Linked DNA regions of Homo sapiens: regions 1, 2, 4, 5 and 6 are each reported to be linked to region 3. Evidence: microRNA targets listed by miRTarBase, many of them from high-throughput screens and not tested one by one. Region 3 holds a microRNA gene; each other region holds the end of a gene's coding sequence.

The links. The annotated mature microRNA hsa-miR-1237-3p reads UCCUUCUGCUCCGUCCCCCAG and lies in region 3 at 2,578-2,598, shown strand. An mRNA with a match to its seed (bases 2 to 7 or 8) in the 3' UTR can be bound and repressed. Matches are read on the target gene's strand: a 7mer-m8 pairs with bases 2 to 8, a 7mer-A1 pairs with bases 2 to 7 and ends in A, and an 8mer does both.
Region 1: the mRNA of ST3GAL6 is a reported target of hsa-miR-1237-3p. Seed matches in the 3' UTR shown: 7mer-A1 at 1,153-1,159.
Region 2: miRTarBase lists PSG4 as a target of hsa-miR-1237-3p. The part of its 3' UTR that is shown has no 7-base or 8-base seed match.
Region 4: the mRNA of GPR107 is a reported target of hsa-miR-1237-3p. Seed matches in the 3' UTR shown: 7mer-m8 at 1,933-1,939 and 7mer-m8 at 2,530-2,536.
Region 5: miRTarBase lists ANKLE1 as a target of hsa-miR-1237-3p. Seed matches in the 3' UTR shown: 7mer-m8 at 3,622-3,628 and 7mer-m8 at 3,432-3,438.
Region 6: the mRNA of METTL24 is a reported target of hsa-miR-1237-3p. Seed matches in the 3' UTR shown: 7mer-A1 at 2,325-2,331.

Annotation. Positions count from the first base shown.
Region 1 is chr3:98,793,315-98,797,403 of GRCh38, forward strand. It overlaps ST3GAL6 (ST3 beta-galactoside alpha-2,3-sialyltransferase 6), which reads left to right. Exons shown (of 10, transcript NM_001323368.2): 10 at 361-2,538. The coding sequence ends at 447. DCBLD2 (discoidin, CUB and LCCL domain containing 2) reads right to left here. Exons shown (of 16, transcript NM_080927.4): 16 at 2,627-4,089. Among named protein-coding and RNA genes, the nearest start is that of ST3GAL6, 32 kb to the left of the region's middle.
Region 2 is chr19:43,189,561-43,193,649 of GRCh38, forward strand. It overlaps PSG4 (pregnancy specific beta-1-glycoprotein 4), which reads right to left. Exons shown (of 6, transcript NM_002780.5): 6 at 3,142-3,828. The coding sequence ends at 3,812. Among named protein-coding and RNA genes, the nearest start is that of PSG5, 5.1 kb to the left of the region's middle.
Region 3 is chr11:64,366,106-64,370,194 of GRCh38, forward strand. It overlaps MIR1237 (microRNA 1237), which reads left to right and starts at 2,497; the gene lies at 2,497-2,598. RPS6KA4 (ribosomal protein S6 kinase A4) reads left to right here. Exons shown (of 17, transcript NM_003942.3): 10 at 2,027-2,155; 11 at 2,363-2,496; 12 at 2,599-2,692; 13 at 3,341-3,514; 14 at 3,594-3,788. RefSeq lists an enhancer at 3,054-3,573.
Region 4 is chr9:130,134,432-130,138,520 of GRCh38, forward strand. GPR107 (G protein-coupled receptor 107) reads left to right here. Exons shown (of 18, transcript NM_020960.5): 18 at 594-4,089. The coding sequence ends at 690. Among named protein-coding and RNA genes, the nearest start is that of GPRACR, 7.7 kb to the right of the region's middle.
Region 5 is chr19:17,286,179-17,290,267 of GRCh38, reverse strand. ANKLE1 (ankyrin repeat and LEM domain containing 1) reads right to left here. Exons shown (of 9, transcript NM_152363.6): 9 at 2,622-3,888. The coding sequence ends at 3,716. Among named protein-coding and RNA genes, the nearest start is that of ANKLE1, 6.3 kb to the right of the region's middle.
Region 6 is chr6:110,242,282-110,246,370 of GRCh38, forward strand. It overlaps METTL24 (methyltransferase like 24), which reads right to left. Exons shown (of 5, transcript NM_001123364.3): 5 at 1,659-3,979. The coding sequence ends at 3,665. LOC105377937 (a long non-coding RNA gene) reads left to right here and starts at 1,789. Exons shown (of 2, transcript XR_942858.3): 1 at 1,789-1,861.

The sequences.
Region 1 (4,089 bases), not on the chromosome of region 3:
AGGCTGATTTTGTTTGTTTTTAAACTGATTTCTAGGGGCTTCTTCCATTAAAGTGAACAACTCAAAATTTTGGTCTCCAGATTTGTATTGTACCATGATTCGGTCTACCAGGGTTTGATATGAAGGAGTCTTACTTATGTGAGAGTTGAAATGGAAAGAGTGGGCTGTAGGGAAAGCTTTTGCACAAGAACCAGCAAGGAAAGTAATTTAAAAGGCTATCAAAAGTTAAAAGTACATGCAACTCGTTACTTAACATTCGAGTTCTTTATTCGGATTTTTTTAGATATAAAGTACTCCATTGGTGCTGCTAATACTTTGAGATTGGGAAAGAATGATGGTAATTGTATTTTTCTTCTTTAGAACGCGTATCACAATGTGACTGCAGAGCAGCTCTTTTTGAAGGACATTATAGAAAAAAACCTCGTAATCAACTTGACTCAAGATTGACTCTACAGACTCAGAAGATGATGCTAACAGTGTTAGTTTTATTTTTGTACTGCAATTTTTAGTTTAAAATATGTTGGATGCACTCGTCAAATAATTATGTATACTGTCTGTTGCTGCCTGGTGATTCATAACCACCAGCTTAATTTCTGTGAATACTGTATATTTAACTTATGAAAACCAAGAAATGTAAAGATAACAGGAAAATAAGTTTTGATTGCATTGTTTTTAAAATAAGCTAGTTTTCTGAGGTGTTTTCACACGTCTTTTTATAGTTACTTCATCTTAGATTTTTGAAGGGATATGACTTCCTACTAAGGATTTAGTTTACCACAACAATTCTGACTACAATAAGACATTTTGAGGAGGATATTTGGCTACTGTAAACATGGCTGGTGGAAAATCACGATTGTGGCTTGATGTGGCAAGCCGAAACCACTTGGCTCTGGAAATCTAAGTTCATACTGGTTTAATTAAGCTCTCTCCTGACAACCCCCAGAATTAAATGAACCATGATTGTGAAGAGTAATTTGGTACAATGAAGGCAGTGTTTGTTTTTAAGTTAAAGGAAATGGGCTAAACATAAAGTTCTTATTAGATAAGTAAATAACTAAAGAAAGAATACAATTACTAAACTCTGATGGCTTTGTATTATTTTAAAGAAATGAAGTTTAACTTTATACAGTGAAGCTAAGCTAGGCAAGCTCAAGAAGGAAAAAAAAATCTTGAACATTATTTTTTTTTGCCTGACTTACTTATTCATTAAATTTTGAAGGTTTTCCACTTGAAGTAAATTAGGAAAGGTAAAGAAGATAACAGAACAAGTAAACACTTAAGAAAAGTCAAGCTGAGGCCGGGCAGGGTGGCTCACACCTGTAATCCTAACAAACACTTTGGGAGGCCGAGGGAGGCAGCTGGATTGCCTGAACTCAGGAGTTCAAGACCAGCCTGGCCAACATGGTGAAACCTCATCTCTACTAAAATACAAAATAATTAGCTGGGCGTGGTGGTATGCGCTGTAGTCCCAGGTACTCGGGAGGCTGAGGCACGAGAATTGCTTGAGCCCGGGAGGCAGAGGTTGCAGTGAGCCAAGATCGCGCCACTGCACTTCAGCCTGGGTGACAGAGTGAGGCTGTCTTCTAAAAAATATAAAAAGTGAAGTTGGGATTTTTGGATTTAAATGGTACAAAAAGAATATCTCATTTTCCCATGATTAAAGCTAATCTTCAGATGGAAAGCTTGCCTGGCTACCTAGGGTGCACCAGAGAATCTGATCCAATGCAAGCCAGTCAATCCTACAAATGTGGTGAGCTAGTCTTCCTTCCTATATTTTAATAAATGTAACCAAAGGCCATCTGGAGGTAGGGGAATGAGAGGTGAAGAAACAGAAAAATAGAGGTTATAAGGATGGAACTAAAAGTTGTCAGAAGAGGTATGAGCTGAAGAAAGAATTACTCTCTTTTGACCAATAAATACAATTGGGAAACACTGGAAAACCATGGCTTGATTACTGACAACCAACCTGCCTCTCTAAAGAGGGTGTATAAAGGGTGAAATACATTAGATTTGGCTCAGAAACAGAATGCGGTACTTATAAAGCAGAATAAAGGGGAGAACAGTAGTAGTTGATCTAACCCAGATTAGACATGAATACCAGCATATGTTTGCAGAGTCCCACAGTTTTGATTCCTCTTATAACTTTTTGAGGTGCAAAAGGAAGGTACCAGAACTGGAATCACATGTAATCAATCAGTGTGATTTTCCCCTCATACCACACAGCCATAGGCTGCAGTGTGGCTGCTGAAGTTCAATTGATATAAAGTAAATCAGGCTTCAAAAAGAATGGTGCTGTGGGTACACAAGGACATAAAGATGGGAACGATAGACACTGAGGACTGCGGCGGGGGGAGCGAGGGGAGCGGGGAGGGCAAGGGCTGAAAGACTATGTATTGGGTACTATGCTCACAACCTGGATGATGGGATCATTCATACCACAAACCTCAGTATCACACAATATACCCATGTAACAACCTGCACTCTGCACATGTACCCTTAGAATCTAAAATAAAAGTTGAAATTATTTTTTTAAAAAAAGGATGGCGCTGGTCATAGAAAAAGTCAAAGTAAACTAACAGTGTCATTTTCAAATGTTGCTGGAAGCACAATATTGGCCATAAATTAGTGAGGTTAAAATAGAAGAATCTGGCATTTTATAGTATAAGGAAAAGCTACAAACCTCAAGGTTGTTTTATTTAAACCAAATAATCTGAGCAAGACATATATACATTAAAAACAAATGAACACATTAAAATTTCACTATTTTACAATCTAAATTCTAGCAACATATACAAATACTGAGTGACTACAGTACATGCCGAGGTAAGATAAGTACATTCTGGGAGAATATCACTGACGCTCAAACCATTTTTATTTCCAATATGTATTTCAATACATGTTTGTTTCCACTTTTCCCAGTGCCACACACACACACACAAAAACAAAACAAAACAAAAAAAAACAGTCACAAGTTGGATTACATTAGAATTGGTGCCACAGTTGACTTTAAAAGCATTTTAATAACCACCCAACTCTTAGATTTTGCAGTTTAGGGACTTCAAGTTCAGAACCAAAAAGCAGAGAATCGTTTCATGTGACATGATGTTTCTATAGACCTCTTGCTCTCTAGGTGACAATGCAGAGCCAGGGCAAAGGTGTTTAAGCTTTGTCACCTTCCACAGCTTTGTGGCCACATTCATATTTAGATAAGCTCGGACTCTGCTCCCCTCTTCTGGAGATGGGGAGAGGCAAGTGTGTATGTGTTGTCATACTTACTGCATTAATTCTTCACTCGAACCGTTTACATCAGCGAATAAACCCATTGTTCAATGCAAAGTGCAAACAGTGAAACATGAACTTAAATAAACTGGACTAGACCCATCACATCCAACAGGATCTATTTAGATTTACAGCATTTAATAAAGTATAAGTCAGAATTCACAATATCTTAAACTGTGCTGTTTCCTAAGATCAAGTAACAGCCAAGTCAGTGTAATTTTATGAAACCTGTAATGGCCACATTTGTTGTGTCTCCGATGTATTTCTATAATTGCATTAACAGGAAAAAACTTAATCCAATATACCAGTGACTTTGAGTCTTAAATGTTGCAAGCAAAGGATAAAAATTCAAGGGAATTTTGTCAGATATGGTTACTTTCACATTTTCAGTTGTTACTTGATTGTCTCCAAAGCCGTATATGTATCAGACATATAAATGTAGTAAAAAAAAAAAAAAAAAAAATAGAAAACCTCTACTATAAAAACCAATGAACTAAAAAGAAGTATAAAGCAGAAAAACCATTTGAATCAGGCTCAGCTCTTCATCTGGAAAGTAAAGTTTATATAAAAGTAGTAAAAACTAGATATTTTATAAAAATTATTGGTAGTTCAAGGATAGCACAGTGGCAATATGAATCGAGTCTTAAAATATGCATCATTTCAGAAAACACTTGCCCCTCTTAAAAAAAAAAAAACCCAAAACTAAACAACAACAACAAAAACCTCCAGGAAAAAACAATCAGGTATACACAATTAACACAAGAATAGCAAACTTCTTTGGGAAAATGAAATAGTTACCAAAAACATCTC
Region 2 (4,089 bases), not on the chromosome of region 3:
GTATCTTTTAAACAATAACTCCCTGTATGTTCCACCCTAGACTTTGATCATCTCTACTCTGTCTCTATGAATTTGCCTATTCTTAATGGTTCATATAAATGGAATTATACAATGGTGTTATTTTGTTTCTGACATATTTCACTTAGCATAATGTTTCCAAAGTCCATGCATGTTCCAGCGGGTGTCAGAGCTTCATTCCTCTTTATGGCAGATTAACATTCTGTTGTATGTGTCACCATATTTATTTATTCATGTGTTGATGAACACTTGGATTGTTTTCATATTTTATCTTTTGTGAATAATGCTGCAATCAACATTCCTATGCAAGTACCTGTTTGAGTCCCTGGATTTAATTTTTTGGGTATATACCTAGGAATGGATGTTGTTTCAAATGAGAATTCTATGATTAGCTTTTTGAGGAACAGGAAAACTGTTTCTCCTAGTGGCTGTACATTTTTATATTCTCACCAGCAATATATGAGGATTCGAAATTCTACATAATGCTGCTACTTGTTATTTAACATTGTAAAAGAATGGTAGCCAGTTTTGTAGGTGTGATTGGTGTCTCATTGTAGCTTTGACGTTGTATTTTCCTAATGACTAATGATGTTGAGTATCTTTTCATGTCCTTCTTGACTATTTGTATATCTTCTTTGAAGAAATGTCTATTTGAGTCTTTTGCCCATTTATAAATTGGATGGTTTGTCCTTTTGTTATTGAGTTGTAGCTAGTTCTTGATATTATCTGGACATGAAAACTGCCTATATGTGGTTTGCAGATATTTTCTCTCATTCTGTGCCTATTAATTATTTTCTTGATAATTTCCTTTGATGTACAAAAGGCTTACATCTTGATAAAGCCCAATTTATCTTTTTTTCTTGTTTCTCATGCTTTTGTATCATATCTAAGAATCCACTGCACATTTGAGATCATCAATACTTACGTCTATGTTTATTTTAAGATGTTTTTATGGTTATAGGTCTTATATTTAACTCAGTGATCAATTTTTTAGAGAATGGTTTGATATCGTGGGAGGTAGAATTATCTAAATTAACTGTTTTGCATGTGGTTATCTAGTTGTTTCTGCACTATCATTTGAAAGGAGAATTGTTCCTCCATTAAATTGTCTTGATACCTCCTTCAAAGAGTAATTGACCATAAGTGTCAGGGTTTATTTCTAGACTCTCAATTCTATCCCATTTGTCTTTATGTCTATCTTTTGCCAGCAGCTTCTGTTTTAATAATTGTACTACTTTGTCAGTTTTCAAATAAGAAAGTTCAAGTCCTACAATTTATTTCGGCAAGATTGTTTTGGCTATTCAGTGGTCCTTTTTGAAAGGTGGGAAGGCCAGTGTTTCACAATTGGGAAAGCCTTTTCTGTCTTCTTCAGGGGGAAATTTGGGAGAACCTTCAAGAAACTTATTCTAAGTAGGTAAACTGTCACCACTTTATTTGCTGAAGTGCTATGTTAAAGTGTGCATTGCCTCTTGTGGAAGAATTGTGAGACCCTGGAAGCACTTGCCCATGTGGTGAGAGACAGTAAATTCCACGATGAGGGGGGAAGGGAACATTGTTTTAGGACACCGTGTTGTTGGGGAGTTGTATACATCTCTACTTATTTATGTCTCTGTACAGTGGGTGTAGGGACCAGCCCCACAGGGTCGGTGGGTTTTTCTCCACATGTACAGAGATGAGAGATTGTAGAAATGAAGACACAAGACAAAGAGATAAAAGAAAAGACAATTGGGCCCAGGGAACCACTACCACCAAGACGTGGAGAACGGTAGTGGCCACGAATGCCAGGCTGCGCTGATATTTATTGTATACAAGACAAAGGGGCAGGATAAGGAGTGTGAGCCATCTCCAATGATAGGTGAGACCACATGGGTCACGTGTCCACTGGACAGGGGGCCCTTCTCTGTTTGGCAGCTGAGGCAGAGAGAGAGAGGAGAAAGAGCTTACAGCATTATTTCTGCTTATTAGAGACTTTTAGTACTTTCACTAATTTGCTACTGCTAACTAAACAGCAGAGCCAGCTGTACAGGATGGAACATGAAGGCAGACTAGGAGTGTGACCACTGAAGCACAGCATCACAGGGAGACGGTTAGGCCTCCGGATAACTGTGGTTGGACCTCACTAACATCAGGCCCTCCACAAGAGATGGAGAAGTAGAGTCTTCTCTAAACTCCCCCGGGGAAAGGGAGACTCCCTTTCCCGGTCTGCTAAGTAGTGGGTGTTTTTCCTTGACACTGAGGGTACCTCTAGTCCATGGTCCACTTGGCAACAGGTGTCTTCCCAGACGCTGGTATTACCACTAGACCAGGAGCCCTCTAGTGGCCCTGTCTGGGCATAACAGAAGGCTCGCAATCTTGTCTTCTGGTCACTTCTCACTATGTCTCCCCAGCTCCTATCTATTTATGACCTGGCTTTTCCTAGGTTATAATCATAGAGCGAGGATTATTATAATATTGGAATAAAGAGTAATTGCTACCAACTAATGATTAATGATATTCCTATATAATCATATCTAAGATCTATATCTGGTATAACTATTCTCCTTTTATATTTTATTATACTGGAAAAGCTCGTGCCCTCGGTCTCTTGCCTCGGCACCTGGGTGGCTTGCCGCCCACAAGTGGGCATCTCCGTTGGACACAGTAGGTTTTGAAATCCTTGTTTATTCTCTGGGGTCTGGGTCTTGGCTTACCTGTTAGCTGCAGCTGAAAGAGGTGTCTGCTAAGTCAATGACACCTGTGGGGAGAAGAAGGATTCAGCAGAGTGAAAGTAGCTGGGACTCAGAGAAGCCAGGAAAGTCTGACTCTTAGAAACTGTGGGTCAGCAGATGGGTGTCCTCAGGGATAAATGGGCCATGCCGGTAGCCACTGCAGTGAACTGGAAGAAGGTAAGGGATGCTGGGTATCCCATGTTCTCTCTCAGCTCTGCAGCTGAAGATTTGGGCCCTGGGCTAGTACAGCCCTGCAGCAGGGGAAGGGTATACAGGAATGGCTGCATATCAGGACCAAGTCCATGTCATCTTCTTAGGCATTGTTACTGCAGATGGAGGATTCTGTTCAGAGACCTGGCCTGGACACATGGGAGGGCCCACCCCATTCTTTTAAAATTATTTTAAGAGAACAGTATTAGCAAATGTGGTACATGTTTTATTCTGCTAGAATCAGTATTACTGTCACGTTTTACACTGTATCTCTTAGGAAATGGTGAGAGCCATCCACACAATGTGCATTTAAAGGAGACTCTACTATAATTTCAGCTTTCCTACTCTTTATAGAAACCATCTTCTCTGCAAACACACAGGCAATATCTCTGTGTTCATTTCTATTGGGAGCCCTGTATGCAAGATGGAGAGAGCCACATTTCCCCTGAGATGTTACGTAAAAGTTTGAGGTTGAGATGACATATCTGACACTCTGTTGTTACCCTCAGAAGCTACTACATGTGAAATTCTAATGACTGCATTATCCTGCCAAGTGAAAGAGGCAGGCATGAGCAAGGACGGTTAAGAGGGGTGGGAGCCTTATCATGATGGGGAGTCTTGTTCTGACATCTTTGGAAAAACTGTCCACAGTGTGAAGTCATCAACTTGTTATCCTGGTTTACAGTTTGAGTAGCTGTTGTTATGGTGTCGAACATTTTGGTGAGTTCTGAGTGGCTCACATGTCAGGTACAAGGGTTTTCCCATGAAATTTACATCGAGTTGTCCACCTCCAGCTTATAGGGCTTCTGGAACAGAGTGGGTCTTGCTCTTCGTGATTCCATGGGAGAAAATGGAATTGGAGGAACTAGTAGAATTCAGGGTAATATCCAGTCTACAGGTGGATAATAAAAACACAGAAACAATGAACAGAGCTGCAATCTCATAACCGGTGTACTACAGTTTTTATTTTCCACATAATTTTTCTCTCTATGGGCATCTCTAGTTTTACCAATGATAATTTCAGTAGAATAAGTTTGTTTGCAAAATAGGTTGAGTTTCTTCAAACGTGGTCTGATTCTTTACATAAGTGCAGCAAGAGTAGCAATAGACCATGTAGGCGCTCTTTTAGAATTTTATTTGCTCTAAGTTTTTA
Region 3 (4,089 bases):
GTGGCTTTGCATGCCCTTGGCATAGCATGGTACACTCCTGGAGGGTCAGGTCCCCTCCACCGAATTTTTTTTTTTTTTTTTTTTGAGACGGAGTCTCACTCTGTCTCCAGGCTGGAGTGCAGTGGCTAGATCTTGGCTCACTGAAATCTCTGCCTCACGGGTTCAAGCAATTCTCCTGCCTTAGCCTCCTGAGTAGTTGGGACTACAGGCGTGCGCCACCACACCCAGCTAATTTTTGTATTTTCAGTAGAGATGGGGTTTCACCATGTTGGCCTGGATGGTCTCAATCTCTTGACCTTGTGGTCCGCCCACCTCGGCCTCCCAAAGTGCTGGGATTAGAGGCATGAGCCACCATGCCAAGCCCCCTCTACTGAATTTTAGAAGCTTACACCTTTTGGACAAGTCCAAACTCCCTTTGCTTGGGCATTGAGGCCCTTCATGATGTGGTCCTTGCTTAGAACCTTAGCCTCAGTTCTCATCATTTTCCTACTTGATGCTCTGGAGGGCATGATCGAACTGCTCAGAGGTTCCAGAATATACCTCTGTGCCTTTGCACTTGCTGCTCCTGCTACCTGGAGTACATTCTCTACAGCAGTCTACATGGCAAGCTTCTACCCCTCTTTTAGGCCTCCTTGTCTGCTCACCTGGCCCAGGGGGTCACCCTTTCTTTGTGCTGCAGTCCTCTGTGGACAGCATCTCCTTCTGTGCAGTTTATCATGTTGCCATAATGATATTATATCATTATCACTAAATAAACCAGTATGGTTTGTTTAATAGACAGACCAAGTATGGCTGGATAAGTCCCTTCTCTGAAGCTCTTAGAATTGACAACTCTGTGCTTGAATGTCCACATTCCATTCCATTGTCTCACAGCCCTCATGATAAAGTTCTTTCTCTTGAATTGGTAGGTACTTTCATTCATTCATTTAATGATTCAAAAATGTGTAGTGAGTGCCTAAAATATTCCAGGTACGGATCTGGGTACTACATTTTTAGGAGAAGATGACACATAGTTTATTTTTAAAATTATTTTTTAAAATTAATTAATTAATGTTTTAGAGACAGGATCTTGTTCTGTGGCCCAGGCTGGAGTGCAGTTGGGCAACCATGGCTCACTGCAATCTTGAACTCCTGGGCTTGAGTGATCCTCCCACCTCAGCCTGCCCAATAGCTAGGACTACAGGCAAGTGCCACCACTCCCAGATAATTAATTTTTTTTTTTGAGACGCAGTTTCGCTCTTGTTGCCCAGGCTAGAGTGCAATGGCATGATATCGGCTCACCGCAACCTCTGCCTCCCGGGTTCAAGCGATTCTCGTGCCTCAGCCTCCCGAGTAGCTGGGATTACAGGCATGTGCCACCACGCCTGGCTAATTTTTGTATTATTAGTAGAGATGGGGTTTCTCCATGTTGGTCAGGCTGGTCTCAAACTCCTGACCTCAGGTGATCTACCTGCCTCAGCCTCCCAAAGTACTGGGATTACAGGCGCAAGCCACCGTGCCTGGCCACAACACGCAATTAAAATGACCCTTAAAAGCTCCTCAAATTGCCAGGACATGGATCTTTAGGAAAAGCAAAGAATTAACTCTGCCTTCTTTTTGCATTTCTTCAGTAGCTCCCCTTGCAGAAGAAGCCAAAGTCCGGCTTGAAAGGGAGGAATAAGTTTTTTTTCCTCAGCGGATAGAGTTGGATTCTCATAAGCTAAGCGTGAACTCAGGCCACACTTTCAATATATTCATTGGTCCTTTCAGTGCCTTCAGCCCTTGGCACCTGGGGAGGAATAAGTGGTCACTCTGATGAGAAAGTTGGGGTCACAGGCTGGTGGGGACAGACATGGCCCCAAGTGATTATAAAACCAGGTGGAATAAAAAGTGTCCACACATCCTGTGTGTACCAGAATGCAACTGGAACACCCCCCACTGCCCCCTTGTCCAGGGTCTTGCCTTTGCCTGGTTCCCCACCAGAGTCTCCTCACCCGCACCCCCAACCCCCATGCCCATGCCCATTCCCCGGACTCCCGCCCTGCAGGGATACTCCTTTGTGGCACCCTCCATTCTCTTTGACCACAACAACGCGGTGATGACCGATGGGCTGGAAGCGCCTGGTGCTGGAGACCGGCCAGGTCGGGCAGCGGTGGCCAGGAGCGCTATGATGCAGGTGGGCTGGGCTGGGCTGGGTTGGGGGGAAATTGGTTTTAGGAGAGGCCTAGGCCCGGGGACTCTAGGCCTAGATCCAACTGGCGCCCGCAGCGTGAGCTCAGCAAGGTCCTAAGCCTCTCCGACATGGGGCGTGGCGGGGCCGCGGGGCTACCAGGTGGGACCTCTGACGCGCCGCCTTCGCCTTCGCCTTCGCCTTCGCCTCCAGGACTCGCCCTTCTTCCAGCAGTACGAGCTGGACCTGCGGGAGCCTGCGCTGGGCCAGGGCAGCTTTTCTGTGTGTCGCCGCTGCCGCCAGCGCCAGAGCGGCCAGGAGTTCGCAGTCAAGATCCTCAGTCGCAGGTGGGAGGGCCCAGGCGCGGGCAGGGGTGGGGGTGGCAGAGCGCTGTCCCGGGGGCGGGGCCGAAGCGCGGCGACCGTAACTCCTTCTGCTCCGTCCCCCAGGCTGGAGGCGAACACGCAGCGCGAAGTGGCTGCCCTGCGCCTGTGCCAGTCACACCCCAACGTGGTGAATCTGCACGAGGTGCATCACGACCAGGTGATGGCTTCCGGCCAGGGGAGGGCGGAGAGAAAAGGGGCAGGCGGCGGGGCTTGGGGGCACTATGGGCGGGATCTAGGGGTGAATTGGGCGGGGCCTAGCGTTTGATTCGGGGCCCAAAGGGACCAGGGAGGCGCAGGGAGTGGAATTTGAGGGGAGTAGGGCCTGAGGACGGGAAGGCGGAGCTGAGGATGGACAAGAAAAGGGACTTTGGCCGGGCGCGATGGCTCACGCCTGTGATCCCAGCACTTTGGGAGGTCGAGGTGGGCGGATCACTTGAAGTCGGGAGTTCGAGACCAGCCTGGGAACATGGCGAAACCCCGTCTCTACGAAAAATACAAAAATTAGCCGGACGCGGTGGCGTGCGCCTGTAATCCCAGCTACTTGGGAGGCTGAGGCACGAGAATCGCTTGAACCCGGAAGGCAGAGGTTGCAGTGAGCCGAGGTGGTGCCACTGCATTCCAGCCTGGGCGACAAAGCGAGACTGTCTCCAAAAAAGTAACAAAGAAAGAAAGAAAGAAAAAGGACTTTGAGGAGGGGGTTCTCGAACATTGGCAGGGCCCGAAGGCCGGGGGCGGGGCCTGGGTGGTGGGAGGGGGCTTGCCGCCGTGGGTGGGTGTTGACCTTGGCCCGCCACGCCGCCCGCAGCTGCACACGTACCTGGTCCTGGAGCTGCTGCGGGGCGGGGAGCTGCTGGAGCACATCCGCAAGAAGCGGCACTTCAGCGAGTCGGAAGCAAGCCAGATCCTGCGCAGCCTCGTGTCGGCCGTGAGCTTCATGCACGAGGAGGCGGGCGTGGTGCACCGCGACCTCAAGCCGGAGGTGGGCGAGCTGCCTCGGCGGCGGGGCGGAGCGGTGGCGCCGGGGGCTGCCTCTGACCACTACCCCGCCGCCCTCGCAGAACATCCTGTACGCCGACGACACGCCCGGGGCCCCGGTGAAAATCATCGACTTCGGGTTCGCGCGGTTGCGGCCGCAGAGTCCCGGGGTGCCCATGCAGACGCCCTGCTTCACGCTGCAGTACGCTGCCCCCGAGCTGCTGGCGCAGCAGGGCTACGACGAGTCCTGCGACCTCTGGAGCCTGGGCGTCATTCTGGTATGGGACGCGGTCCTTGAGGCGGGGTCAGGGTCGCTCGGACCTGGCGTCTTCCTGATGTGCAGCAGCACGAGGGAGGGGACAGGGGTCATCTTGGTGGGGGCGGCTGGGTTTCGTCCGAAGCTGGGATCGGGGTGGTTCAAATACAGAGGTGGGGTCGCTCTGGTGCTAGAGTCGGAGCATCCGGGTATTGGGGGTTAGAAGTCAGGGTTCACCACGCGTGGGTCTCAGGAGTGCCCCTAGTGGGGAGGGTGAGTGGTTCTGTGGGAGCGGAGGGGTCAGCCTCGGCACCCCAGCCTGG
Region 4 (4,089 bases), not on the chromosome of region 3:
CACAGAGTGGAGGCAGAGGCCATGCGCTGAGGCACAGCCACATGGCCCAGCCCCAGCTAGCAGAAAGCAGCCAGTTCTCTGTCTATAGTGGCCAAAGAATCTTTGATCCTGGAAGGTTCCTCTAAACCTGTGGTTCTGTCCCCTGGCTCAGAAATGATCCATTGTGGCTGCTTATTAAAAATGTCTGGTTGGCTAATTAGCTTTCTTTTCTGAATGTCCATTAAGAGTCAGATTTCAGTCTCATAAGCGTAACTATCACATATCTGTGCGCCACAAAAATTCCGCAAGCTGTGACAAAAAGATTCATGATGATTGTGATAACGATAGCTGGTGTTTATTGATTAGGCACTCTGGAGAATCTCATTTTTCCTCATGACAGTTCTGGAAAGTGAGAATTACTTAAGCACAGAGAGTTCAAGTGACTTGGCCAAGGTTACACAGCTAGTAAGGAACGAACCAGGAATCACACTTAGATTTTGTCTGTTTCAAAAACCAACACCCATCATCAGTCCTAATCACCGTGCTGTGGCAGAGATGGCCTTTTACTAAGAGACTGTGAGATGTTCCTAATTGTTTTTTCTTTCCTTGTTCAGTGTGACAACATCTGGGGTGATGGAAAGTATGAAGAAAGTCAAGAAGGTGACCAACGGCTCCGTGGAGCCCCAGGGCGAGTGGGAAGGCGCCGTGTGACAGAGCCGACCCTGAGGATGGCACTGTCCAAGGAAACTGTTAACTTATTCATAGTCCTATTGGACAGCAGGAGCAGCTCCTACAGTGAACTATTGGCACCACCGACAGTGACACCAGGGCACATGGCTGGAGCACAGTGCCGCGGAAACCTGATTTTGTACTCTCTTTTATGGAAACGATCTGTGGCTGTTTAGAGGCAGCTGGATCCTCTTTCAGGCGGGAATGGGAGGGCGGGCACAGGGAGGAGGAGAGGAAGAGAAAAGGAAGAATTCATTTTTAATTTAGGTTTCTTTTTTTCTTCTTCATTTCGGAGCTCTAAGGTGTATGCAGTTGTGACCCCATGTGTGGGGAAGTGTAGCAAGGACGGCTGGTGGAGGGGGAAGGAGGGTGCGAGGTGTCTGTCTGATGCTTTAGGAAATGTCTACTGAGGACCCTGGGACTTAAGAAGAAGGGCGGGGAGAGTGCCATTGCCTGTTTGGGAGACAAAAATGAACGAAAACAGGTGACTTTGGAAAGCAAAGTCAAAACCCAGTTTAGGATGTAGCACCTGCCCCAGGATTCCTGCCCTCGGCTTTGCCCCAGACCCTTATTCCAGATGCTGAGAGTGACCAGGACAGCAGCTCCTGAGGCCCAGTGGTCTTCTTTCCAACAGGAAAAGAAGGCTGTGATGTCGCTGTCAGGATCATGCCCTGTGGCACAGCACAGGTGGTGGGAGGTGGTTTTCTGACTGAGATGTTGCCTGATGGATGGAAAGAAATGTATTTTTAAGTTCAAAAAGCATTATCCTGTGGCGTTGCCTGGACATCCACTCCCTGACAGCCCAGAGCAGCACTGTCTGGCTTCCCTTCATGCTTGTGGCTTTGTTGTGTTTGATCAGAATTTTGGGGGAAATGGAAAGTTTTCCTCAAGGAGCAGCTGGGGGCAGAATAGGTAGTATTTAAGCAAATACTTAAGTCCAAGCAAATCATCCCCATTAAAAAGCTTTTCCTGTAGGCTAGTAGGATTTCTAAATAGATGAATTCAACAGACTTGGTCCCCATAGTCCAAGAGTATGTATGTGAAGAAAGTGAGCATGATTCAACAGTTTCACTCTCAGGGATTTTAGGATGGCAAAATACTTCACAGAAACTCAATGATTAAGTTCCCTTCCACACTTCCAGAGCTTGAATGAACACAGGTAGCCACCTAAATTGAGCAGTATTGCAACTCAGAGAGAAAATCATCTGAATAGTAGGACAAGCTCAGAAGGTACATTGTGACTGAGGGCTTAAAAGGAGACCAAAACATGGCCCCATCAGGGAAGCTTCTTAATGCTTGGGGGGCCAGCTAGGTAGGGTTGCTTCCAAAAGCTGGAGCCCACCCCTGCCTAGGGGTTGTCAGAGAGCCACACCTGCAGGGGAACAGGTACCTCCGAGGGTGAGAGTCGTGGTCTCTGGGAGTTGTTTTCTCACCTCTGGCTTAGAAGGGTCAGGCAGAAACCACAGGATGTGGGGTCACACTCACTGTCCCAAGTTTGGGAACCTGAAAAAGTCTCCATTCAGAACATGGTTGTTCTCCCTGTCCCATGCTATCTTATCTTCCTAAATGACTAATGAGGAAGCGGGTGTTCTTTTTCTGCACTTTGATTCGCCATCTGGGTTCTGTAGGGTGCTCTGAAGGTGTGATCTGCCTTCTGGCTGATGTGGAGGAAGAGCAAGCGCCTTCCCAGGCCACAGCTGCTCACCTCTCGGCAGATATTTTAGGCAAGCATCCGTGTGTCTTCCCATCTTCAGGAGAAAGGTAAATGCACCCTAAGTGTTCACTTCTGGACCTTTTTCAAGTTCACTTGGGACTGTGTGACAGAAGGGAGTTGGAGGGAGGATGGGAATATTTTTAACACTTTGTTTTCCTGTGCAGAAACATAATACCAGTTTTCGCAGAAATGTGTCTCAATCTGTGACTACCAAAGCCCTCCTCAGTCCTTCCCTCAGAGGGACACATTTGCTGTTTCTCCCGCAAGCAGATGTTGTGGATGAGGCGATAGACTCCTTGGCAAGAACGAAAGGTGTGATGAAACCTCCCTGCTCGGAAGGGTCTCCGTGGAGGTGTCCTCATTTCACATGCTGGGTTTTGCAAGCGAGGAAGCCAGGCAGTGGAGGAACTAGAGAGAGGCAGGCGTGTGTGTGGACAAGCGCTGGAGCCGCAGCCCTCAGACTGGCACGGGAACGCCAGCGTTGGGTGTTCAGATTCCACGCGTATGTCTGGGCTCACTCACAGCATGGCCGAGTGTCTGCAGTGCTGGTCCTGACCCTTCCAGAGCAGCAGTGGACAGATGAGATAAGACTGTTTCAGAAACAAAGATGGCCACAGCCTTCCTAACAAGCAGGTCATCTGGCCATGTCTGTATTGTAACTGGTAAAAGGCTTCAAGTCAGATTGATGATCAAGAAAAGTCAAAACCCCAGCCCAAGATTGGGAAAGCAGGTGGTGGTTCCAAGCTTTTAAAAAATTATTGAAGCTCTCCATCCTGTTCTGTGAGTGTGTCTTCTCTTTCTCCTTCACGTCATAGCCGTGACCCACCGTTCATCTCTGCTCTTGCGTAAAGATGACCGATGGAGTCCAAAGCCAAGTGGCTTCACCAGCTGACAAGCCACCCTCCTGCAGCCTGAGTTTCACAGTCCACTGGGTTCGTTGTCATGCGGTGTTTGAATGGTTAAGCCCTTGCAGTATTTCAGATCGGGCAAAAAATATCGGATGCACATAGCAGAACCATTGGTGGTATTTATAGCTTTGCTTTGTACTCCTCACTGTTTCTGCCTACGCAAAATATCCATGTTTCCTCTGAGAAATCTGTTGTGGACTGAAAGCGCTGCTGGCTGTGAAATTTAATAAAGTGTGTATGCTTTGCTAGAAAATTATTTCTTGGACAATAGGAACAGTCATTGATCTGTAAATCCTGGCTCTTAACAGTGAGTGGCCAAGGACTTGATCAGCCCATTTCTTGGTCCCTCAGTGCTTTAAAATTTAAGTAGCACTGCATTTTGTAATGTTGAATATGACTCTAGTGACTTGTAGGAGGCACTTGTGAGGAGATGCTTGCTTCAGTGTAAAAGATGCTCATGGCCTGAGTCAGTTGAGTTTTCTTTCAAGAAACCACTTCAGAGTGAAATATCCAGGGTTTCCCCGCCCTGGACATGTCCAGCCTGCCCAGGCAGCACACAGCCCTGTAAGTCCACCTCGTGTGGGTGAGATTTCCTCCTGCGTGATGACCTCATCGCCATCTCTGCTGTCTCATTCCACAGCCTCCCTCCCTCTTCTCTCCTCCTCTGCCCTCGCCCTTCCCCCTTCCCCATCCCCTCCCCCTCCTCCTCTGCCCTCGCCCTTACCCCTCCCCCTTCCCCTTCCGCTCCTCCTCCCTCCT
Region 5 (4,089 bases), not on the chromosome of region 3:
ACCTGTGGCTTTATTATTAGATTTGGCAACTGGGAGGCATCCCTGTTTCACACTTTTTTTTTTTTTTCTGAGACAGTGTCTTGCTCTGTTACCCAGGCTGGAGTGCAGTGGCACAATCTCGGTTCACTGCAGCCTCAGCCTCCTGGGTTCAAGCGATTCTCCTGCCTCAGCCTCCCGAGTAGCTGAGATTACAGACACCCGCCACCGCGCCCGGCTAATTTTTGTATTTTTAGTAGAGACAGTGTTTCACTGTGTTGGCCAGGCTGATCTTGAACTCCTGACCTCAGGTGATCCACTCGCTTCGGCCTCCCAAAGTTCTGGGAGTACAGGCGTGAGCCACGGTGCCTGGCCCCTGTTTTACACTGGAGGAAAGTGAAGCTCAGAGAGCGGTTTCTTCAGCTCGATTACAAGTGGTCGAGCCCAAACCCACTCCAGAGACTGGACCCCTAATCACAATACCAGCCATTCCCCGAGGAGCAGCCGGTGGCTAAGCAGTGGCGAGGTGGGTGGAAACTCGGCCCAGGTCACAGCCCGCCCCCTGGGGGACCTGGTTGGCTAAACCGCCGTGATGACCGGCAGGTCCTGAAACCAATGAGGCAGCGGATCTCTCCCAAGTCCCTAAATGCACCGGGCCCTTTGCAGAAGCGACTTCCAGAAGCTTAAATGCCCTCGACCCCCCCCCGACCCCCGCCCGCCCGAAACCAGACCGCTGACATCTCACCAGGATGGCGGCTTGGTATTTACTTAAGACCTTTGCACATGAATGGTCTGAAGTCGCATAGCATCGCTGGAAGTCGGGTTATTTATTATTATTATTATTATTATTATTATTATTATTATTATTATTATTATTATTTGAGACGGAGTCTCACTGTCGCCCAGGCTGGGGTACAGTGGCGCGATCTCAGTTTTCTGCAACCTTCGCCTCCCGGGTTCAAGTGATTCTCCTGCCTCAGCCTCCCAAGTAGCTGGAATCACAGGTGCTCACCACCACACCCGGCTCATGTTTTGTATGTAGTAGAGACAGGGTTTCACCATGTTGGTCAGGCTGGTCTTGAACTCCTGACCTCAGGTGATCCACCCGCCTCGGCCTCCCAAAGTGCCGGGATTACAGGCGTGAGCCACCACGCCCTGCCGGGTTATTATTAATGATCCCTCCCTTTTTTTGAGACGGAGTTTTGCTCTTGTTACCCAGGCTGGACTGCAATGGCTTGATCTTGGCTCACTGCAACCTCCGCCTCCCGGGTTCAAGCAATTCTCCTGCCTCAGCCTCCCAAGTAGCTGAGATTACAGGCATGCGCCACCACGCCCAGCTAATTTTTGTATTTTTAATAGAGATGGGGTTTCTCCATGTTGGTCAGGCTGGTCTCGAACTCCCGAACTCAGGTGATCTGCCTGCCTCGGCCTCCCAAAGTGCTGGGATTACAGGCGTGAGCCACCGAGCCCGGCCAATAATCCCATTTTATAGTGGATAAACAGGTTCCCAGAAGCAACAGGGGAGGCTGGGGTTGCACAATGATCCTGAGGAGGGTCCCAGCCCTGCTCACGCCTCATCACACAGGCGGCCCCTTGAGGGCCCCCACACCTCCCCTTCCTCCAGCAAGTTCTCGCCTGGGCTGCACTGCCACACACTTTGGGCTCTGAGCCACACACTTTGCTCACATGACCTTATTTTTAAATTTTTATAGTTTTTTTAAGAGACAGGATCTTGATATCGCCCAGGCTGGAGTGCAGTGCTGTGATGGTAGCTCCTTGAAGCCTCCAACTCCCAGGCTCAAGCAATCTTCCCACCTCAGGCTCCCAAGCAGCTAGGACCACAGGCCCACCCACCAGATCCGCCTAATGTTTTTACTTTTCGTAGAGATAGAGTCTTGCTATGTTGCCCAGGCTGGTCTCAAACTCCTGGGCTCATGCTATGCTCCCGCCTCAGCCTCCCAAAGTGCTGGGATTACAAGCGTGACACCCAGCCCCAACATGACCTTACAATGATCCCCTGGAGTAGGACCTCTTTACTGCCTCCACTGTACAACCAAGGAAACTGATGCTCAGGCAGATAAAATACTGATCAGAGGTCTCACGGCTGGGTAGCAGTGAACTTGGCTCTTGAGCTGGGTAGATATCCTGAGTGCAGCTGAGGATCCCCCAGTCCAACCCGCCATGTGGGTGTCCCATGTCTGGGCGGTAAAAGCAGCCTCTATCCATTTTATTTTATTTATTTTTTGAGACAGAGTCTCGCTCTGTTGCCCAGGCTGGAGTGCAGTGGCACAATCTCGGCTCACTGCAAGCTCCACCTCCCAGGTTCATGCCATTCTCCTGCCTCAGCTTCCCGAGTAGCTGGGATTATAGCCGCCTGCAACCATGCCTGTCTAATTTTTTGTATTTTTAGTAGAGACGGGGTTTCACCATGTTAGCCAGGACGGTCTCAATCTCCTGACCTTGTGATCCACCTGCCTCAGCCTCCCAAAGTGCTGGGATTACAGGCGTGAGCCACCGCGCCTGGCAGGCTCCATCCATTTTGACAGCACCAAGCTGCCAAAGTGTTACCAGAAAGGCCCGATCCAGACCCCAAGAGAGGGTTCTCCAATCTCACGCTAGAAAGAATCCAGGGCGAGTTCATAGAGTACAGTGAAAGCAAATTTATTAAGAAACTAAAGGAATAAAAGAATGGCTACTCCATAGACAGGGCAGGGCTGCTGGTTGCCCATTTTTATGGTTATTTCTTGATGATATGCTAAACAAGGGGTGGATTATTCATGCCTCCCCTTTTTAGACCATATAGGGTCTAAAGGTTAACGTCCTGATGTTGATGTGGCATTTGTTTTTTTGTTTGTTTGTTTGAGACAGACTCTCGCTCTGTTGCCCAGGCTGGAGTGCAATGGTACAATCTCAGCTCACTGCAACCTCCACCTCCTGGGTTCAAGCGATCCTCCTGCCTCAGCCCCCCTAGTAGCTGGGATTACAGGCACGCGCCACCATGCCCAGCTAATTTTGGTATTTTTAGTAGAGATAGGGTTTCGCCACGTTGGCCACGCTGGTCTTGAACTCCTGACCTTAGGTGATCTGCCCTCCTTGGCCTCCCAAAATGCTAGGATTACAGGCGTGAGCCACCGCGCCTGGCCAGCCATGGCATTTGTAAACTGTCATGGCGCTGGTGGGAGTGTAGCAATGAGGACGACCAGAGGTCACTCTTGTCGCCATCTTGGTATTGGTGGGTTTTGGCCGGCTTCTTTACTGCAACCTGTTTTATCAGCAGGTTCTTTATGACCCGTTATCTTGTGCTGACCTCCTACCTGATCCCGTGACTTAGAATGCTTTAACCATCTGGGAATGCAGCCCAGTAGGTTTCAGCCTCATTTTACCCAGCTCCTATTCCAGGTGGAGTTGCCCAGGTTCAAACGCCTCTTACAGAAGCACCGGACTGTTCCAAAGCACCTTCTGCTTCCCTTCTTGTCCTCCTCCCACGATGGGGAGCTCACTACTTACTACCTCTCCAGCAGTACCATCTGTAACAAAGTCCTCTCTCAGCCTGGGGGAGATCTGCCTGGGTGCTCCCTACACACACACACACACACACAAACACACACACACACACACACACACACACACACACACACACACACCCCTTCTGAAACCAGAGATGGGGGCTGCTGTCAGCATGGGGCAGCTGGAACATTCAAACATTTCTCCCCAGGCTGGATGGCCAACTCCCCAGCACTCAGCCCCGGGCCTGGATGTCCTGGGGATGAAGCTGTCGCTCGCCTTCAGCCAGGAAGACAAGGAGGGCACGGTGCAGCAGGTGCACCCCCAAGCGCCGGCGACGAGCAGGTGGCCAGCCTGCCACCACTCCATAGCAGTGCCCTTGCTTCTGGTTGGTGAGCGTCTGGATCCCTGGAGAAATTGGATGTGGGGTCACAGGGGCAGCCATGGGGACACCTCCCCATCCAGCAGAAGTGTGTGACAGCAGGCGGCTGGGTATGGTGGCTCACGCCTGTAATCCCAACACTTTGGGTAGATCACATGAAGCCAGGAGTTCGAGACCAGCCTGGCCAACATGGTGAAACCCTGTCTTTACTAAAAAATACAAAAATT
Region 6 (4,089 bases), not on the chromosome of region 3:
ACTGCAACCTCCACCTCCCAGATTCAAGCAATTCTCCTGCCTCAGCCACCCGAGTAGCTGGGACTGCAGGCACATGCCACCACGCCCACTAATTTTTTGTATTTTTAGTAAAGACAGGGTTTCAACGTGTTAGCCAGGATGGTCTCGATCTCCCGACCTCGTGATCTGCCCGCCTCGGCCTCCCAAAGTGCTGGGATTACAGGCATGAGCCACTGCGCCCGGCCTCTCTCAGAATTTCTTTACTCATGATGTTGGAAAAAAATAAACTTCCTTGTTGTGAGAATTAGGAATAAGCTATGCACATGGTCCGGCAGACAGTTAGCTCTCAGTAAAGAGTAACTCTTGGTTTTGTTTGTTTGTTATGTGTTGTTTGTGTTGCTCTTGTGGTGGTTGTGGTGGTGATGATTATGGTTTTGCCCGTTCCTCATAAGAGGATCTTGTGTTTGCCTGTTCACAAGTAAACAGTGCTATAGTAGCCTGGTCCTCTTCTCATGGCCTGCACCAGTAGTTCTCCACAGTGGGTGATCTTGCCCCCTCGGGGACATATCCTACAATGCACAGAACAGCCCTCCCCCGGTAAAGAATTATCCAGCCCAAATGGCAATAGTGCTGAGGTTAAGAAATTTATTATGTTTATTTATGATAAACATAATAAACTCTAGAGGCAGGAAAACCTTAACAACCATCAGTATATTCATCACAAATTTGAAACTATACATGAAGAGAATGAAGGACCATTTTAGAAATAAGCATAAAATAAGTATGGATAACTATTAAACAGGCTGCCTGGTCAATCAGCGTGGCTGGATGTGTTCATGATATATTCTTTTTTAACAGTACATTCATTCATGCTTCAGGTACATATAGCATGATGAAGTCAATGCTCAACACCACCAACCTGAAATAAATAGTTAACTTGCCGTAGACAAAGGGGCTTTCAGTAATACCCTAAATCTCCAATTCCACGAATTAAAAATCTTAATATGGGTGTGCTACATATCTAAAAGCTGATCAGACTGGACATTTAAGATGAATACACTTTCTACACTTTAATGTATAAAAATGTTTATATATTTCAGTATATAAACATTTTATGAAAATAAATCTGTTATATAATCCAAACAGAACTGGGCTAAAGTTAGCTTTGCTTTGGAGATGACACCATATAACTAACAGTATAAACCAATTTAGAGTGTGTGTGGACCCTTCTGCACATTTGAAATACCTCTGTACATTGAAATGACTAAACTGCCTTTTCAGATCACACTTACTCAAGCCAGTCCTCTCAGCTCAACAACTTTTATTAGTGGACTATGAGTTTTAAAATAAAAAGCTCATGTGTATATATTTTTTAATTATCACAACTAACTCAGAAAGTCCTGTTCTCTTTTCAACTCAAGCTAGTGAGGTCATCCAAGTCTAAGACGATTTGATTTCTCACTTGAGGAATGGCATTTTCAAACCACTTCAAGAAACAAAGAGCTAACCTGGGGAATGTCTGAGGGTAGAAGGAAGTACAAATTGGGAAAAGGGGTAAAGTCTAGTAATAATCGGCATTCTACTCTCTCCCCCCAGTTTTTGAGCAATGTACATACAGTTTTATACTCAGGATATAAAAATGCCAAAAAATATATTTAATTGACAATAAAGTAATAATGTGGTTTTTATGCTATTTATTTGAAATAGAATTTTAGAAAATTATGCACGTGTTTAATCCTGTAAATAGTAATGAGAGAGAGCATTTGAACCGCTGAGAACCTAAACTTTCCACTTAACTTTTAATGTAGAAAGGATCGGTGCTATTGAAAAACTGTCTAACTATCCTACGAAAGTGAGACGATGGTCTTCAGGCCACAATCATGTAAGTGATGCCAACTGGGAGTAAAGAAAAATGCACTTAACATTATTAGAGATAATGTATTTTTTTAAAAAAGATTTGACAGCATAGGCAAGTCTGTGGGTGGTAAATCATGTTTGAAGGCAGAAGAGGCAACAGCAAAGATACCCAGATTCTGCTCTGTGCTTAGTTTAATAGGAAGTGAAGGGGAATTAAGGCTGAGTATAAAAAGCATCTTGAGTTGAAGCTCTTTTTTTTTTCTGTGAACAAATAAACTTTATTCAGGTATAAAAAGCAAGTGCTTTTTCAAATACGTAAAATCTAAAAAGTGTAATACCCAAAGTATTAGTCCATTCTCACACTGCTATGAAGATATACCTGAGACTGAGTAATTTATAGAGGAAAGAGATTTAATTGACTCACAGTTTAGCATGGCTGGCGAGGCCTCAGGAAACTTACAGTCGTGGTGGAAGGGGAAGCAAACACATCCTTCTTCATATGGCAGCAGGAAGGAGAAAAATGAGAGCCAAGTGAAGGGGGACACCTCTTATAAAACCATCAGATCTCATGAGAACTTACTCAGTATCATGAGAATAGCATGGAGGAAACCAACCCCATGATTCAATTACCTCTCACCAGGTCCCTCCCACAACACGTGGGGATTATGGGAACTACAATTCAAGATGAGATTTGGTTGGGGACGTAGCCAAACCATATTACTCATGGACTTATAATGAAGTAATCATTAAAGGCCTTACTTCAGTGAGGAGAGCACAGACCGAAGGAGCCAGATGGAAACCAGAATATGTGAGTCAAGAAAATGGTGAAACATGCCAGTAGGAAAATCTATCTTATCTATCTATCTATCTATCTATCTATCTATCATCTATCTATTTATCTACCTACCTACCTACAATGGTTAATTTTATGTGTCAACTTAACTGGACTAAAGGGTGTCCAGATCTTTAGTTAAACATTATTCTAGGTGTATCTGTAAGGATATTTCCAGATGAAATTAATATTTAAATCAGTAGACTAAATAAATCAGATTCTTCACCTCAGTGTAAGTGGACCTCATTCAACCAGTTGAAGGCCTGAATAGAACCTAAGGCAGTAAGGAAGAATTAATTCTCTGTCTGGCTGTCTTCAAGCTGGGACATGGGTCTTGGTGAGGTCAAGACCTTCAGACTTGGTCTCGAACTGGAACTTACACCTTCGTGTTGAAGCTCTTGATAGTCTAGTCTCTTTAACTCAGTGACAGAATTTGGTGCATCCGAGTTCCCAGAAATCAGAAGTATTGCTGCTTAGAAAGCCACAGCATGGCCTCAGCAAAGGCTGAGAAGGAATGACTGAAATCTACAAGGTTGTAAAGAATATCATTAACAAGGTAAATAAGAAAAACCTTGAAAAAGGAGGGTCAAATTCAAATTTAAAACCCTATTTTAAACAGTAGGGGAAGAACTTAAAAATCTCACCAACCTAGTAAAAATAGGAAATTTATATAATTTCATTTCAATGTTGGTGAATTCATAGATTATAGATACATAGAGAATTTTAGGGAAAACTGTGATGAGCTGGGGATAATCTTCCAAGTTAAGGTGAAGGAAGAGTCTGGGCAAATAGGGGTGACTGTGTTTATCCCTTTAACAAGTATTGACTGTGCCCCATCACATGCCAAGCACTAGGCTGCATGCCCGCAATAACACACTCCCTGCCTCAAGCAGGGCACAGGCTAGCAGGAGACTGGATGAGTAAACTCATGATTAGAATTATGGACATGCTGCATTCTGCAAATATTTTCTTGTGCTCTTGATGACATCCTGCATCCTATTTCCATCTTGTATTCACCCAACTCAGAGTATAACAGCTACTTGCATTGAAAATGTCTTTCTTCAAGAATAGCTGAGGTTTAGATAAGTCTTTGTAACTGTGAAAAAGCCTGAAATCCTTTTGTTCTAACTCTTTGAGAAGGCTGTACCAGAACCGCACAACGCTGCTGTCACTGCCACTGACCTCAAACCCAGGCCAGTGGAGATGGATCTCAAAGATGAGCTGTCCAATCTGCTCAAGAACATCTTCCAGAATAAGATTTTCCAAAACTTTCCATTCTGCACTTTCCAGATCTGCCTTGAGAACGTCAATCTGTAACAAAGCAATGAAATGAGATTAGCAGATTTAGTAAAACTATCTTGATATCAGGAGTTTCACATTATAGCTACCTCTGAAGGAAACAGAATTTTTAAAATTTTAGA